4 separate regions of the Homo sapiens genome follow, and regions 2, 3 and 4 are each reported to be linked to region 1. The links are microRNA targets in miRTarBase. Many come from high-throughput screens and were not tested one by one. Region 1 holds a microRNA gene; each other region holds the end of a gene's coding sequence.

Region 1 (4,254 bases):
TGTAAATTACTAGATTAAATTGAGGACAGAAAAGTTTTTTACTCATCCTAAGCTGTTTTTTTCTGGAAAGTAATGACAATTTGAAGAAATGAGAACCTCCAGATATATTTGGCAAATTATTAAAGATTCAGCACTAAAATTGTTGCTCCCTTGAGTGTATCATTTGCATAGGTCTCACATGGGTTTTGGCTCTCTTATGCAAGGTTTGTGGTTAACATCATTGATCAGACTGTGCTTTCTAATTCTAAAAAATTGAGCAGTGTTGGTATTCTTTCAGTATTTTTACTCTCACCTGGAAAACTACCTGGAAGTTGTCAGGCATTTGCTTACTGGTAGTGGAGGTTACAGCTGTACATGAAGCATGTACTGACTGTACTTTTAAATTGGTTTGTCAAGTATACTTTGAATCATATACCTGATGGATGTCCAAAAATATTTAAGACTCTTTGAAAAGAAGATAGTTACTTTTAAATTAGTTACCCTAAATTTCATATCTTAATACATGTACATAATTATGACATCACTTCCTTTTAAAATGTGCAGCTGTAGAATGTTAGTGGTGTTTTAATGTGGTAGATTAATATTACTTCTACTGAGCTGAACTGTCCCTGTAATTAGTACTTGGTTCCTTCTGCCATCAGAGTTTTTATTGCCCAAAGTATAGTGTTTAGGGAATACTACGAAAATCACCTTTGCAGCCTGAGCCACAGAAGAGGAAATGAGTTTGCAGGTCAAGTAAACTTTGGTCTGAGAATTACTTTAGTATCTGGAAAGAATGAGTGCAAGTTTAGGTAAATCTGGTAATACCCTGTTTTTGGAAATAGTGCAGTAGTTAATAGTGGTTATATAAGTTTGTATTTTAATTTGAAGTTAATGCTAAAGTCTGTTATACTTTATCACGATTTTTGAAAATTAAAAACTTTAAAAAACGCGATTTTAAAAACATTTGATTGATATTTGTAAAATTTCTAAGTATTTAAAACAAAGTTCTAATGATGGACATACGAGAAGTATACCATACTTTTTATCTGAATAATTTGCAGCTTGGGGATAACTTAAGTAACATCAAAGAATGAAAACGGGACTGTGTGCACACAAAGAGTTCAGTGTGTTCTCCACGGCACCACGTTAGCAATTTATCTTAAGAATTGAACGAGTTTATTAAATTTATCTCCAAATCGTCTGCCTTTGAGCCAGATTTATTTTTATAACCTGAGGTGCGGGTAAATCCTACAATTTTCAGGGGCGCTTTACCAGATATTCTAAAAGGCTGGGGATGATTAGAAATGGCATAATGCAGTTACTTGTGTACTAGAACAGGCAGTTTAACTGGCAGCCATTTTATGACGCTGATAATACATTAAAAAACGGGATTTTGGAGAAGACTGAATCTAAACTAATAGAAATCTGAAATACCAAAGCCTATTTCCTTCCCCCTCTCTGCTCTTCTGGGGAACTCTGGTGCCGACATAAAAGGCAGTTCGATAGGGCACGCAGCAGCTCTTTGAGCCCCTGGCATCTTGATGCAGGTCCAGCTCAGTCACAAAATGGCTGTTCCTTTGTGCCGCAGCGCTGACAGACATACTGCATTGCACTGTGTACTCGCCAAACAGCAGGAAGTTGCCGTGCCGAGTTCAAAGGCCGGCCGGCGCCGGCGCGGGGTGCTGATTGGCTGTGCGCGCGCCTGGTAACAGCAGGGTCAACGGCGGCGCCTTCGGCAGCCTCCGCCCCGTGACGTCAGACGGCTCCCCTGGGGGGCGGGGAGAGAACGCAGTGACGTCTGGCCGCGTGCGCATGTCGGGCGCTTTCTCCTCCCCCTACCCAGGGAGCCGCACGCCGAGGGGAAAAGGAAGGGAACTCTAGTTGGGACTTTCCGGTGGGCGGCTTCTTTCCTGGACGCGTTTGCTCCTGGCAGTCTTGTCCGCCCTTGCCTGTAGCGGTCCGCACCCTGTAGTGTGTTCTTTTGCCCATTTCCGGGAATGGTTTATCCTCTTTGAGAAGCGGCTGCTTTTGGAGAAAAAGTGCAGGCACTATTTATAAATTTTAAAGGCACTATTTGGAAATCTTAAAATAGAAAATTTGCCCAGTTTTACATTTTCCCTTTTCATACCTTAGCGTCCCTTCTCCCCGCCCCCGTTCAGTGTGAAGAGATGAGTGGGTTTAATTTTGTTACAATTGACCAAAACGTTTGAGTGTCAGAGGCGGATACTTTTATTTTAGTGAAAACCTCTTGACGGGTGTTAACAGCTGTTTAATACATGGCTCATAAACAAAGGGAAGATTATTTGAACTTGTCCCCATGCGTTTTTACTTGGTACCGTACATTTTCTCAGTTGGCATTTGATGGAGAAAAACTCAGGTCAGTATGTGCTAAGTACTATATATTTAAGATTCACAGTGGGATAGTTTAGTAGAAAATAGAAAATTTCACGTTCAATAACATTAAAAAGTGGCAGAATACAGCGTTAGGCAACCATTACTATGTAAGTAAATGTCAGAAAACTACTCTTTTAAGTGTTAATAGCACTTGCTAATGCAGGGTGACTGACAGCTTGGCTGATAGTGGGGTCACTTGGCCAAATCTTCGCAATTATCTTCCCTAGGCCTCCATTTCGGGAATTCTGAGTCCCGGTAAACGGTTGGGTTTATGCTCACTGATTTGCCTTGTTTGGAAACCTTTACAAGGATTTCTGGTTAAAACTTCATCGTTCAGCAACGATGTCTTAATAATTAAATTACACATACTGAATTTAAGCAAGCAAGAAATTCAGTGGATTTATCTACTGTGGACAAAGTTTTTTTCCTGCCATACTAGAGTTTTTTTAGCAGTTGGAGTAGGCTGTCCTGTAGTTAGCCATAGTTTAGAGTTATTTTAGTAAAGTGTGTTACTTCAAAGGAGATGTTGACCCTTCAGTGCAGGTGATATTTGCTTGGGCGTATGTCAAGTTTCTGAATACAGTCTGTGAAAGTTAGAATTCACTATGATAGTGAGTTTTGTAGGTTCTCATAATCTAGGTTCTTTGGGAAGAATTATTTGGATAGTTTGTGAAAACTAGCTGAAATTGCTTTTTCTGTTACAGAGAAGTGTTCATCAAATAATTTGTACCTGATTTTAAAATTATATGCTCAAATGTATATTGCGTATAAAATGCTAACAGAGAATTAAGTGTTTATAGAACTTGATGAACGTTTAACTGTAGCTTCCAACTTAAAGTATACCTGCCACAAGAACGAAAGTAATAATCTCACCTCCCTTTTTGTGTAGAGACTGAATTCTAATTAGTTGTGTTAATAGTATTTGCTGAATACCTTTCAATTCCTAAAACTGGGGTCAAAGTAGTCAACATTGCAGTTAATTATTTTTGAAGAGGATATGAACTATTCTGTTATTTAAGATATTTTAACCTAAATACCATTATGAGTTAAAATGCATACCATGATATAACAATTTACCTATTAACTGTTGACAATCTTGCAGCCAATTAAGTTTTTTATAGAACCAGTGTTCTTAGGTATGTTTGTTGAGCCTTCTACTTTTTTTCCCTTTGATGTGGGGAATAGCATCAAGCAGCAAGAAAAGAGTGTTGATCGATTTCTCTCTCTTTCTCTCTCTCTCTCTGTATCCTTGCCGTTTAAAATATGCACTTTCCAACTAGTATTTGGCCGTTAGGGAGTTAGTATCTTTGTAAAGATTAAGTCAGCAGAGGAAGGTGGGCAAATAATATTTTTGATAAAGACTTTTGGTTGTGACAGTTGTAGCAAGTTATTGCTTGAGGAGTGAATCTGGAAGTTTATTTGAATTTTAACTAAAACTCACAGATTTTATCATTAGTTTACTCTCCCTTACCCCCAAATAAAACAACTGACAGTTATGAGAGACCTCCTGAGACCACCTGGTATTTCCAAACTCCTATCATTTCTCCCATAAAATTTGATACACTAAGTTTGTTTCTGGTATAAAAATTGAGTGACTGCTCTGTGTCAGCCATTAAATTTTTTCTTGCTATGAGCCATCTTTTTTTTTTTTTTTTTTTTAAGATCCTTTAGTTTTTAGCTGCTTCTTGGTAACCTTAGAACTTTGCTTCCTTGAAGAACTTGGCTTTCTTGATATGGTGTCACTTGAACAAAGAAACTTAAAAAAAAATTCCTCTAAGAGTATTTTGTGTACAGGTGAAAGTAACTTTGTGGCTTGGTTACACTGGGTGTGTCACAGCTGAGTAACTCCCTCCTGCACTTCAGCTTGACTAAGCGTTG
Region 2 (4,254 bases), not on the chromosome of region 1:
CCTACCTCAGAAAAAAAAAAAAAAAAAAAAAGCTGGAAACAACCCAAATGCACATCCCCCGGGGAGTTACGTTATTCACAAGGAGAAGCACCCTCTGCAACAAAAAGGAACCAGCAAGCACAGGCTCCCTGTTACTCCCTGTGGTGCAGGAGGCATTTTTCTGAGGGCATTAAGCACTTCAAAGTGTGCCTGTGGTGGGAGTGCTGTGTGGGCAGGACCAGCACTGGGTGGGATGTTGGGGGCGGGGAGCTCTCAGCTGCCTGCCCCTGCCCCCATGCCCACACTCTGGCAGTCTCTGGTGGGCCAGAAATGATGAGTGCTCATTTCTCTTCCACCCTGCAGGCACAGTTGGCGGGCAGCTCCCAGGTCTCCATGAGTACGGCGCCGTCGGGGGCTCCACACACACGGCCACTGCAGCCATGTGGGCCTGTCAGCACTGCACGTTCATGAACCAGCCAGGCACAGGCCACTGCGAGATGTGCAGCCTCCCCAGGACCTAGGGCGCCTGCCCTCTGCTGGCTAGGACCGGGCCCAGCCCAGCCCTTCCTGAAGCCAGAAGCGTTGCTGAGTGTGTTCCCTGTAACTGCCCCATAGTGGGCAGCCCTGGAGGAACAAGGGGCTGGCTGTCCTGGGCTCCCTGACCCACTGAAGCTTCTCAGCACGTTCCTCCCTGGAGAGCGGGCGCCACGGCTGGTATTCTGCAGGCTGAATGCAGTCTCCAGACTGGAAACGCAGAGCGGCTCCTCACGCCTAATCCTGTTGACAAGTCCCCCGCCGTGTTGGAAAGACCTCTCGCCTCTACGTGGCACCTGGAATTGGGGCGCACAGGGAGGGGCCGATGCTGCCACCACCCAGCCTTCTCTTTATTTTCAGTGCTTTTTGTTTGGCCTCCCTGCCCCCATGTTTTTCTGGCTGGGAGCTCTTGGTTACCCCCTTGTCTGACTGCTTGGTGGCAGGCACCCTGCCTGTGAGGGCCACTTTCCTCTTCTAGTAGCTGTTGTCTGGTGGGGACGCAGTGGCCCTGGACACGGCTCCCCTCTGCAGGTCTGCAGGTCGGTTTGCTGCCTGCCCTCCTCCTCTCACCCGATGTCCAGGTGGGATTTTAAAGTCTGCATTGGTTATAATAACAGTTATCAGTAATTCCTGCCCAGAAGACTTTTATTTATTTTTTTTTAAGATAAAAACTGCACAAAAGGGGAGTGAGAGAGACTAGTTTCCACATCCTTCCCTCCTTTAGTGAAGCCCCCGAGGTTGTGTCCAGGGTGATGAGTGTGGACGGGGGCACCAGTCAGTTCTCCCTTGAAGTAAACCTCAGTGCCTGAGACTTTTCTACCAAGCCACACAGCTGCAGCAACTGCAGATACTGCGGGCTGAGCAGGAGCAGTGGTGGCGCCTGCCCTGAGGCTGCCCTGCGATGGCCTGGGTGGGAGAGCTGGGTCACCGGTGCCGATGCTCTGGCCCTCCCCAATACGCTGCTTCGTCCCACTGCACCGCCTGGCTGAGGGCGTTAGGGGCTGTGCCTCTTGTGAGGGCCATTTGGGACCTCCCTGGGGCACTGCACAATTGATAGTGTACCAATAGAGGGAGACTGGGCGATCTGGAACAGCACGTGGTGGGGTCCTGCTTGTGTGCTCTGCGTTCCTCTGTGGCGTGGCCAGGCCGGGGCATGGCTCTTACCCGGGGAGTGGTGGGCATCTCGATGCTTCTTTGCCTTAATGATGGCCACATCTGGGCTGCTCTGCACCCACGGGAGAGGCTGGCCCAGCTGCAGACTGCTTAGGGACTTCTGTGTCCATCCTGGGGGGTAAGCCCACGTGACCCACATTCTTGGCACTATGAACAGAGAACATTTGCCTGTTGGCTTCTGAAGTGGTCAGGGCCATGGCTGACACCTCCAGGTCCGCCTGGCATGGGACACCAAGTGGAAGGCCCAAGCAGCTCATCTGCTCTTGGGACCAGGGGCCAGTTGGGTTGGGTCTGGTCACGGCAGAGCTATTGTGGAGGGTCAGGAAGGGTGGAGAGGAGCTGGGTTGAAGCGGACTGCTGCGGATGCAACTCCCAGCTTGCCCACCGCGGGCTGTCTGCTCTCCCTCCTAGCAGCTGTCACACTGAAGTTTTGTCCTCTGCTGTCTCCTCTGGTCCTGAGATGAGCTGTGAGCCTAGGTGGCCAAGGCTTCCTGCATTGCTTCCCTGTGAGTCCAAGGCCTTCCCCCACCACTGGGCAGAGGCTGGACAGCACGGACTTCTAGAGAGAGCCGCGTTGCCAGTTCCTCTCCCACTCGCTCGTCCTTATCCACCACGCTATTATAGTTTCCGTTGTCCTCCACCAGCATTTCCCTTACTCTGAAGTTCCGGCATTCACATCATTCATGTTTTCTTTTGTCTTTTAGCTAAAGGAAAAGCATTGGCGATTTGTCTGATTCTGGTTTTGAGTTACTCTTTGTTCAGTAATGCACTTTATTTTATTGTCCAAAGAGAGTCAGAGCTAAGCATACAGGCTTGGGGGTGAGCCCTGCTGTGAGAGTTCAGGCCCTGGGAGGCTCAGCCACCTCCTCTTGTGGGAAGGAGGTCTCAGCCCCACCTCGCATCTTCACCTGCCCTTGGTGTGGACACACCCTCTCATGCTACCAGCACCATAATCCAGTGGGGGTGACTGGGTGCACACCTGCCCAGGTGAACACAGCGGCTGCCAGTCTCCTGGTCCCGAGAGGAGGTGGGGCCTGGCCCTGGCTCCCTCCAACCAGCTGCTCCTGGGACACAGGTGCTCCTGCTTCGGCTCTGTTTCGGCTCACAGGTGTGCATCACTGGGCTTGGATTTGCATTACATTGACCCCAGCCCTGCAGTGGAACCTAATAAAAGCGCCTGAAGCAACTGCCTGGTCCTGGTGTGTCCTTCCTGCGCACTCAACTGTTGTCTGGCATCTGCTCAGTGTGGGGGGATTTGATAACTTGTCTCCAAGATATCACTGTTTTACGTGTATGTGCATGGTCCATTTAAAGGTGGGGATCCCACTTCCCCAGCCGATCCCTCCCAACCTTGGCTCCTCGATAAGTTTCTTAAAGTGCTAACATCTGGGGGAGGAGGAGAGTGCGTCAGTGTTTGACGGCCCCGCCGCCCTTGGGTGCCTCTTCTGCCTCTGCCGCACCTGTCAGCCCTGCGACTGCCCCACAGTCACTGCTTTGTGGACAGGTACATGTGGTCAAACAGCAGGTGAAGGACAAAGCCCAGGAAGGCCAGACTGCACAGGTGCAGCAAGGAGTGAGGCCTGGGGGTGACACACTGCCTGTGTTCCTGCTTGAGCTGTCTTTCCCTGTGACAACAGAAAGCGTCTAGAACAAGTGCTCTCTGAGCCTCAGATAGGAGCCTGGCAGTCACTGTTCAGCACCACTTTGTCCTTTGGTCAGTGACTCATAGCTGACTTGAGCAGTTACTAAAAAAAACTCCAACTAATTTCTGAAGGAGGGCCCTGGGGTGAAGCAGGCCACAGGACAGTGACCAAGGTGTCCTGGCTTCTGGACTCCAGGAGCGAGAGGGTGAGTCCCCCAGCACCCGGACTCCAATCCTGCACCTTCAACACAGTGCAGTTCACTCGATTTACCCACAGCTCCTGGGATCGCTTGAGCCCAGGAGGTTGAGGCTGCAGCCAGCTGTGATCGCAAGTCCAGCCTGGGCCACGGGGTGAGACCCTGTCTGAAAAAAAATTTAAAAAGCTGAGGTGAGGAGGCTCGGGGAGGTTGTATCAGAGAAAGCAGCAGCCTGGGCCATGCAGTGAGCCAGTACCTGATCATGGCCGTCTTATGTGAGAGCCAGTGAAGATCCTTGGCATCCTCTTTGGTTCGATGTAAAGATAAAAGCCGGGCGCAGTGGCTCACACCTGTAATCCCAGCACTCTGGGAGGCCGAGGCAGGTGGATCACCTGAGGTCAGAAGTTCTGGCCAACCCGGTGAAACCCTGTCTCTACTAAAAATACAAAAACTAGATGGGCCTGGTGGTGCACACTTGTAATCTCAGCTACTTGGGAGGCCCAGGCTGGAGGATCACTTGAACCCCGGGGGCAGAGGTTGCAGTGAGCTGAGACTGTGCCACTGCACACTCCAGCCTGGGCAACAGAGCAAGACTGTCTCAAACAAAAAAAACAAAAAAACTGGGTGTGGCAGCTCACACCTACAATCCCACCACTTTGGGGAGGCCAAGGCTGGTGGATCACTTGAGGTCAGGAATTCAAGACTAGCCTGGTCAACATGGTGAAACCC
Region 3 (4,222 bases), not on the chromosome of region 1:
GGCAGGAGCAGACCTAATGAGCAATCTGACTGTGCTCTACATTTGGTCCACTTAAAATGAGAAGAATGTACAAGTTTTAGGGTTTTCTGTGTTGTAAGTTCCCAGAATAAACGTAGTTACAGGGTAGGGCTGCAGGTTAGGGACTGCCTGGAAGATAGGATGAAATGTATTTTGTTCATTTGATTTCTGTTTTTATTTCATCTTGAGCATGTGAAAAATCAGTGGCTTTTTAAACTTTCAAAGTTGACTGCCTAGACTGATAAGTTTAAGAACACACAAGTAAATGTCAACAGTCTCTTGTGTTGCTGACACACTCAAACCAGTGCTAAAACAATTTTTGTCTTAACTCTGAATTATACATGTTCAGACCTGCTATTGAAACAAATGCATTTTGATATTTGGATTTTTCTAAACTAAACACACAGCTGTGCTAGGCTCTTTGCTCTGTTAGCCTTCTGACCATTTTATAGCTCTAAGCATGTGATATTTTCTCCTAGAAGACTCCGAAGTGCTAGAATATTTTCAGAGGGCAAAGCCTTATAATAATTCTTACTGGAAGCAAACTAAACAAAAACCAAGTTCCAGAAAACATTGCTTCTGAGAAATTCTCAAATATCATCAAGAAGAATAAGTGGTTAACTTAAAAACAAAACTATGGCAATATGTTAAAGTACAATACTGCAGTAAGGGTAGAAAACACATCTAAGGTTTCACCCTTAGTGTTAAGCTTTTTAAAAGCAAAAAGGTCATGTGTATCAATTTGCAGTGTACTAAAATTGTGTTCAAAGTTTATTTCAAGTCACAGAAAATATACAAACTAAGACAATAAAATGAAGTGATTTTGTTCTGAGAGAAGGTGATGGGAGTCCTCCACCTGGCACTGATTTGAGTCATTCAAGGGTTAGGATGCAGGTCATCTTTTTTCAATATTTCAACAAAATTATAGAATTTCCAGATTTCTTGCCAGGTATTTTTGAAAACCTGTAAGAAGAAGTTAGGACAAAGCCATTAGAAGTGAAGACAAAGCTCTCTTCCGGAAAAACTTCAGGAAAAAAAATAAAAAGGCTAGGGGAGGGAGGACAGGCATATAATCAAATCACCAGGACAGATTTGCAAAGTATCTGTCTCCTGCCTCCTGACTCCTCAAAGCAATCAGCCCTTGCAGCAGGGTTTCTCAACCTCAGCACTACTGACATTTTGGGCTGGAGTACTAGTTGCTATTGGGAAGTGGGTGAGGGGGACCATCCTGTGCATTATGGGATGTTTAGCAGTATCTCTGGCCTCTACCCACTGAATGCCAGTAGCATGCCATACTCCCTAAAGTTGTGATGACCAAAAACGTCTCAAGACAATGTCACCTAGGGGGCAAAACTGCCCTTGTTTGAGAACCATTCATCTCTAATGACAACAGTATAGAAGCCTGTCCATGATGGCAGAGATGGATCACAACTAGCTAGGTATAGGATGGAGGAAAACCCAACACTTTAGCCATGGTATGCACAAACACCAGTAGACACACAATAAAATCTTGCCCACATAAAATTGCATAGAACCACACATACATATACACAAATCATGATAGTTTTTTTAAAATGGTGAAAACTGAGTTTGCAGTCAAGTTAACAGTAATGTGCCAATGTCAATTTCTTGGTTTTGCACTACACTGGGTGAAGGGTACATGAGACTCCTTGTACTATTTTTCCAACTTTCCTTGAGTCTATGATTATTTAAAAATAAAAGGTAAAAAAATAGACAAAAACTTTGCCTTGTGGTTAATATGCAAGGCCTTAAATTAAACATCCTATAAGCAAAACTATAATGAAAGAAATTTCAGAAACATTTCTACCTCTACTATCCAGAAACAGTAAGGAGTAATTTTCTCACATTGTAGGGAATGCCTTCTCTGGCTTAAGTAAATTAGTAAAAGAAATAATTTTTATTTATTCCTCTGAATGTAATAGGTAGTCTATACTTTTACTAAAAAAAAAGAATATGTGGGGTTTGTGGAATAAAACGTTAAGGTACCAAAAGTCTACTGAGCCTTCTATCTATGATAGCTTCTCATTAATTCATTTAAGGTCTAAATACATATATGATGCATAGTCGCAGTTTAAATGTTTAAAGACATCACAAGTATGGATTAAAATGATATATTTTGTAAGAGTGGTAATTATTAATAGTTAAATGAGTTCACTATTATATAACATAAGAATAGGAATTATAATATGGATGGGGTAAAAAGTAGAAATTTAAATTGTGCTGTCCTACCTGATAGTGGGGCAACATGAATTTTAAACTGTTTTTAGAAAAAAGAACTGTTTATAAAATACAAAATGCTGGGGAAATTTTTTTTAAAAAAGAAACACTGATACATGTATGTGTAATCAAGTTGTCACATGATTATTTATGAAGCAGGTTACCTGGATCCTTTTTTTTTTTTTTTTTTGACACAGAGTCTCACTCTGTGACCCAGGCTAGAGTGCAGTGGCATAATCATGGCTTACTGCAGCCCTGACCTCCTGGACTCAACCAGTCCTCCCACCTCGGCCTCACAAGTAGCTGGAACTATAGGCGCATCTCACCATGCCTGGCTAATTTTTTAAAAAATTTTTGTAAAGATGGGGTCTCACTATGTTGCTTAGGCTGGTCTTGAACTCCTGGTCTCAAGTAATCCTTCCACCTCAGCCTGCCAAAGCTGAGATTACAGGGCTCAGCCACTGTGCTTGGCCCCTGGATTCTTTCTGCCTAAATGATGAGCAAGAAAAATAAGGGTAGCAGGGTACAGCGATCTCCAAAATATATAGAAACTGATGGTGATGACGGACATTTACTACCTTAAATTATGTGCTACTATAGTTCAACATCAAAATATTCCCTATAAAATAAATACAAGAAACAAAATATTTACACATTTTATTGAAATGCTTTGTATTTTTCCATTTTGACAGGACAGTTTGGAATAAAATAATACAATTGATTGTAGAAGGATACACACCAAACTATATTTAGAGGTTTTGTCTGGGGAATGAGATTGAGGAAACAGGGCTTTTTACCTTTCACCTTCTACATTTCTGTATATGATTACTTTTGTTAAACTGATCATACATTACCTTTGTCATTAGGAAAGATTATAAGCAATTCAACAACTGAACAAACATTGTATAGCCTTACTCTATCCCTACAGGAGCTGACCTACTGAAGGGTAAAGAAGAGTCTAGCTGAGTGGATTGAGGGCCGCTGAGAGAACAATCTTGTTGGTTAAGGTTAAAAGTATATACCCAGAATAGACAAGGAGCTAGTCCTACTCAGATGGGGATTAAGTTTGCTCACCTATCAAGGTGCTCCAGTGGATTTCTGTATTTGTTCCTTTAAAATCAGGATACTCTGCCTTTGCTCAGGAGGCAACATGGCAATCTGGTCTGCAGTCAGTTGTAGAACCTGCATAATCAAAGCAGCCTGTGCAGAGGAAAAAAAAAAGGTAGTGAGTTTTAATGATGGCAGCTAAAAAATACAAAACAAAACAAAAAACCCACCACCAGCTTCTGTCCAAAAAGCTACTGTAGTGGGATATGAAGCAAAATGGAAAAAGGAAGAACATTTCACACAGAAAAAAACCAACAGCCCCCCTCCAAAAAAAATAAAAAATAAAAAAAAACTGGTGAGAAAAGGTACAATGAAAAGAACAAGTATAAATTAAAATACCTAAGATTAGACGATTCAAAACAGACAACTTCATGAACTCAAAGTTCCTGGAGACTAAGATGGTATCTGTGAGCCCTGGAAATCCTTCAAGTTTTAATCCTGTTTTGAAAGTCTCTCTTTTTCACAAATTTTAGCCTTTCCATCAGACATAAGCTCCCCACAATGGTCAAATATAAAAACAGAAAGATATAATCATGGGGAATCTACTATTGTTTTTAGGGATAAAGTAGAAAGGGAAGGAAAAAGGGTGTGGATTTTCAGGTCAATCTGGCCTGAACAAGAAAAACCTGCTATTGGCAGATGAGTGTGAAATATAAAATAAGCTGCCATTTACATCCACTTAAGAACTTCACATCCATTAGGAACTTCAGGACCAGACTCACAAATTTTCAGGTAACAAGATCATAAAAGAGTTCTAAGTTAGAATAAACATCACCTCCAAAGGGACTTTGAAGACCCAGGATCGTCACATGGTAACTGTGAAAAGAGGAATCAAAAAGGCTAGAATTGTGCATAAGGA
Region 4 (4,254 bases), not on the chromosome of region 1:
AACGGTACGTGCCCCTCGCCGCCCCAGCCCCTGTCCCCGGCCGCCGCCCTGGGCAGCGGCAGCGCCGCCGCGGTGCCCAAGATCGAGAGCCCCGACAGCAGCAGCAGCAGCCTGTCCAGCGGGAGCAGCCCCCCGGGCAGCCTGCCGTCGGCGCGGCCGCTCAGCCTGGACGGTGCGGATTCCGCGCCGCCGCCGCCCGCGCCCTCCGCCCCGCCGCCGCACCATAGCCAGGGCTTCAGCGTGGACAACATCATGACGTCGCTGCGGGGGTCGCCGCAGAGCGCGGCCGCGGAGCTCAGCTCCGGCCTTCTGGCCTCGGCGGCCGCGTCCTCGCGCGCGGGGATCGCACCCCCGCTGGCGCTCGGCGCCTACTCGCCCGGCCAGAGCTCCCTCTACAGCTCCCCCTGCAGCCAGACCTCCAGCGCGGGCAGCTCGGGCGGCGGCGGCGGCGGCGCGGGGGCCGCGGGGGGCGCGGGCGGCGCCGGGACCTACCACTGCAACCTGCAAGCCATGAGCCTGTACGCGGCCGGCGAGCGCGGGGGCCACTTGCAGGGCGCGCCCGGGGGCGCGGGCGGCTCGGCCGTGGACGACCCCCTGCCCGACTACTCTCTGCCTCCGGTCACCAGCAGCAGCTCGTCGTCCCTGAGTCACGGCGGCGGCGGCGGCGGCGGCGGGGGAGGCCAGGAGGCCGGCCACCACCCTGCGGCCCACCAAGGCCGCCTCACCTCGTGGTACCTGAACCAGGCGGGCGGAGACCTGGGCCACTTGGCGAGCGCGGCGGCGGCGGCGGCGGCCGCAGGCTACCCGGGCCAGCAGCAGAACTTCCACTCGGTGCGGGAGATGTTCGAGTCACAGAGGATCGGCTTGAACAACTCTCCAGTGAACGGGAATAGTAGCTGTCAAATGGCCTTCCCTTCCAGCCAGTCTCTGTACCGCACGTCCGGAGCTTTCGTCTACGACTGTAGCAAGTTTTGACACACCCTCAAAGCCGAACTAAATCGAACCCCAAAGCAGGAAAAGCTAAAGGAACCCATCAAGGCAAAATCGAAACTAAAAAAAAAAAATCCAATTAAAAAAAACCCCTGAGAATATTCACCACACCAGCGAACAGAATATCCCTCCAAAAATTCAGCTCACCAGCACCAGCACGAAGAAAACTCTATTTTCTTAACCGATTAATTCAGAGCCACCTCCACTTTGCCTTGTCTAAATAAACAAACCCGTAAACTGTTTTATACAGAGACAGCAAAATCTTGGTTTATTAAAGGACAGTGTTACTCCAGATAACACGTAAGTTTCTTCTTGCTTTTCAGAGACCTGCTTTCCCCTCCTCCCGTCTCCCCTCTCTTGCCTTCTTCCTTGCCTCTCACCTGTAAGATATTATTTTATCCTATGTTGAAGGGAGGGGGAAAGTCCCCGTTTATGAAAGTCGCTTTCTTTTTATTCATGGACTTGTTTTAAAATGTAAATTGCAACATAGTAATTTATTTTTAATTTGTAGTTGGATGTCGTGGACCAAACGCCAGAAAGTGTTCCCAAAACCTGACGTTAAATTGCCTGAAACTTTAAATTGTGCTTTTTTTCTCATTATAAAAAGGGAAACTGTATTAATCTTATTCTATCCTCTTTTCTTTCTTTTTGTTGAACATATTCATTGTTTGTTTATTAATAAATTACCATTCAGTTTGAATGAGACCTATATGTCTGGATACTTTAATAGAGCTTTAATTATTACGAAAAAAGATTTCAGAGATAAAACACTAGAAGTTACCTATTCTCCACCTAAATCTCTGAAAAATGGAGAAACCCTCTGACTAGTCCATGTCAAATTTTACTAAAAGTCTTTTTGTTTAGATTTATTTTCCTGCAGCATCTTCTGCAAAATGTACTATATAGTCAGCTTGCTTTGAGGCTAGTAAAAAGATATTTTTCTAAACAGATTGGAGTTGGCATATAAACAAATACGTTTTCTCACTAATGACAGTCCATGATTCGGAAATTTTAAGCCCATGAATCAGCCGCGGTCTTACCACGGTGATGCCTGTGTGCCGAGAGATGGGACTGTGCGGCCAGATATGCACAGATAAATATTTGGCTTGTGTATTCCATATAAAATTGCAGTGCATATTATACATCCCTGTGAGCCAGATGCTGAATAGATATTTTCCTATTATTTCAGTCCTTTATAAAAGGAAAAATAAACCAGTTTTTAAATGTATGTATATAATTCTCCCCCATTTACAATCCTTCATGTATTACATAGAAGGATTGCTTTTTTAAAAATATACTGCGGGTTGGAAAGGGATATTTAATCTTTGAGAAACTATTTTAGAAAATATGTTTGTAGAACAATTATTTTTGAAAAAGATTTAAAGCAATAACAAGAAGGAAGGCGAGAGGAGCAGAACATTTTGGTCTAGGGTGGTTTCTTTTTAAACCATTTTTTCTTGTTAATTTACAGTTAAACCTAGGGGACAATCCGGATTGGCCCTCCCCCTTTTGTAAATAACCCAGGAAATGTAATAAATTCATTATCTTAGGGTGATCTGCCCTGCCAATCAGACTTTGGGGAGATGGCGATTTGATTACAGACGTTCGGGGGGGTGGGGGGCTTGCAGTTTGTTTTGGAGATAATACAGTTTCCTGCTATCTGCCGCTCCTATCTAGAGGCAACACTTAAGCAGTAATTGCTGTTGCTTGTTGTCAAAATTTGATCATTGTTAAAGGATTGCTGCAAATAAATACACTTTAATTTCAGTCAAAAACTGCTCTACGTGGCCTGTGATTCGCTCGGTCCCCTCCCCCAGGGTCGTAACCTAATCGCCGGGAAGATCGCAGCGGCGCTGGCGCGGGTGTCTCCTCGGGGCAGGCGGGCTGGGGGTGGCCTCACGGCCCCGTTTAAATCTCGCTGGGCTGTCGCGGCGCTAGGTCCCGGGGCTGCCTCCAGCTTCCTCGGGTTACAGCCTCTTTCGGGGCGGGGGAAGGGGAGGGGGTGACGGTAGAGACTCCACCGCCAGTCTCCAGGAGTTTGGTGTGATCGCTCCACTTTGGGGAGCCCGGCGAGGAGCTGGGATTTGCGGACAAAGGGCCCGCGGCCGGAGCTGGGGTGTCGAGGCCCGGAAGGGGAGCTGCAGCAGGTGACTCACGGCCCTGTCCCCACGGGCGGGCTGGCCCAGCCCGAGGCGGAGCAGCTCGGCCGCCGGAGACGGTACCGTTCTCGACGTGTCCGGTCGGACTCTGTGGAGTAGGGGGTGGCGGGTGGAGACCCGCGCGGCCCACGCCTGGCTTTCCGGCTGGGGCGTTTCTCGCAGGCCCGGTCCCTTCCGAGTCGCGCCCGCCCCGACGCCGGCCTCCTGGACGCCGCTCGCGACGGCAACGCTCTCCAGCTAATGAGCTGTAATTACCCGCGGCGGCGCGGGGCCCGGCTTCGGTTTGCGTTTGGAGCTCCTTCCTCCCCACACCCCCCTCCCCAGATTAGCCCCGGCCTCCGCGGCCTCCTCCTGAAATTAGTCGTTGGAGAAAAGCGAGTCAAAGGGAGACCCCTGTTAGTTTCGCTGGGTTCCTCGCGGGCTGGGTCGGGGTGCCGGGAAGCGCGCGCTGAGGGAGGGTGGCAGGCGCGCGGTGCCGGGGACGGGGACGGGGCGGGGGGCGCCGAGCCGGGAGAAGCGCCCTCGGGGCTCCGGCCGAGAAGCTCGGAGGAGCCCGCTCCCTCGCCCGGTCACCCCGCGTCTCCGCCTGGCGCCGCAGGGCCCCGCCGAGCTCTCACTTCCTCCTCGCTGGCCTCCTTTGTTGTGAAGACGCACGTGTGTTTAGGAGCGCAGCTGGGGTGGAAAGGTCAGAGGCACTTCATTGCTCACGGGTGACAGCTCGCCCCGCGCCGGCCCGCAGCCTCCAGGCGCGGGACCCGGAGCTGCGCGTTTGCAGGGCCACCCCCGGCCCACCCGCCTCGGCCTGGCCGCACCAGACCTGCCCGGGCCGGCGCTGCGGCCCCAGGCGGCCTCCCCGGCAGGGCTGCGTCCTCGCGCGGTGTGTGAGGTTTGCAGAGGCCACCAGTCGCTTGGCAGTGGCCGTGCGGGGAGTCGCTCGGCCTCAAGGATGCCAGAAGCCCTCGGGCGAGCTGCAGGCTCAGCGTGTTCCGAGCCCACGTGCCTGCGACTCTCCACTCTCCTTGGGTCTCGGCTTTGCGGCCCGGAGGAGGTGGCGGCCGCAGTCAGCCCCGGCCTAGGCCCAGGTCGGCAGTGGAAAGCTCGGCGG

What was found. The annotated mature microRNA hsa-miR-3175 reads CGGGGAGAGAACGCAGUGACGU and lies in region 1 at 1,759-1,780, shown strand. An mRNA with a match to its seed (bases 2 to 7 or 8) in the 3' UTR can be bound and repressed. Matches are read on the target gene's strand: a 7mer-m8 pairs with bases 2 to 8, a 7mer-A1 pairs with bases 2 to 7 and ends in A, and an 8mer does both.
Region 2: miRTarBase lists NPLOC4 as a target of hsa-miR-3175. Seed matches in the 3' UTR shown: 7mer-A1 at 1,461-1,467.
Region 3: miRTarBase lists CSTF2 as a target of hsa-miR-3175. The part of its 3' UTR that is shown has no 7-base or 8-base seed match.
Region 4: the mRNA of FOXC1 is a reported target of hsa-miR-3175. Seed matches in the 3' UTR shown: 7mer-m8 at 1,337-1,343 and 7mer-m8 at 2,229-2,235.

The regions. Positions count from the first base shown.
Region 1 is chr15:92,902,650-92,906,903 of GRCh38, forward strand. It overlaps MIR3175 (microRNA 3175), which reads left to right and starts at 1,750; the gene lies at 1,750-1,826. The region is part of intron 2 of CHD2 (chromodomain helicase DNA binding protein 2); the gene reads left to right. RefSeq lists enhancers at 1,283-2,482, 1,344-1,523, 1,804-2,043 and a silencer at 1,594-1,643.
Region 2 is chr17:81,555,505-81,559,758 of GRCh38, reverse strand. It overlaps NPLOC4 (NPL4 homolog, ubiquitin recognition factor), which reads left to right. Exons shown (of 17, transcript NM_017921.4): 17 at 343-2,872. The coding sequence ends at 500. It overlaps LOC124904085 (a long non-coding RNA gene), which reads right to left. Exons shown (of 2, transcript XR_007065947.1): 2 at 2,440-4,254. Among named protein-coding and RNA genes, the nearest start is that of FAAP100, 5.3 kb to the right of the region's middle. RefSeq lists enhancers at 47-546, 547-1,048.
Region 3 is chrX:100,837,473-100,841,694 of GRCh38, reverse strand. CSTF2 (cleavage stimulation factor subunit 2) reads right to left here. Exons shown (of 14, transcript NM_001325.3): 13 at 3,331-3,456; 14 at 175-981. The coding sequence ends at 3,334. Among named protein-coding and RNA genes, the nearest start is that of CSTF2, 19 kb to the right of the region's middle.
Region 4 is chr6:1,611,133-1,615,386 of GRCh38, forward strand. It overlaps FOXC1 (forkhead box C1), which reads left to right. Exons shown (of 1, transcript NM_001453.3): 1 at 1-2,765. The coding sequence ends at 975. Among named protein-coding and RNA genes, the nearest start is that of FOXC1, 3.3 kb to the left of the region's middle. RefSeq lists enhancers at 2,495-3,112, 3,113-3,729.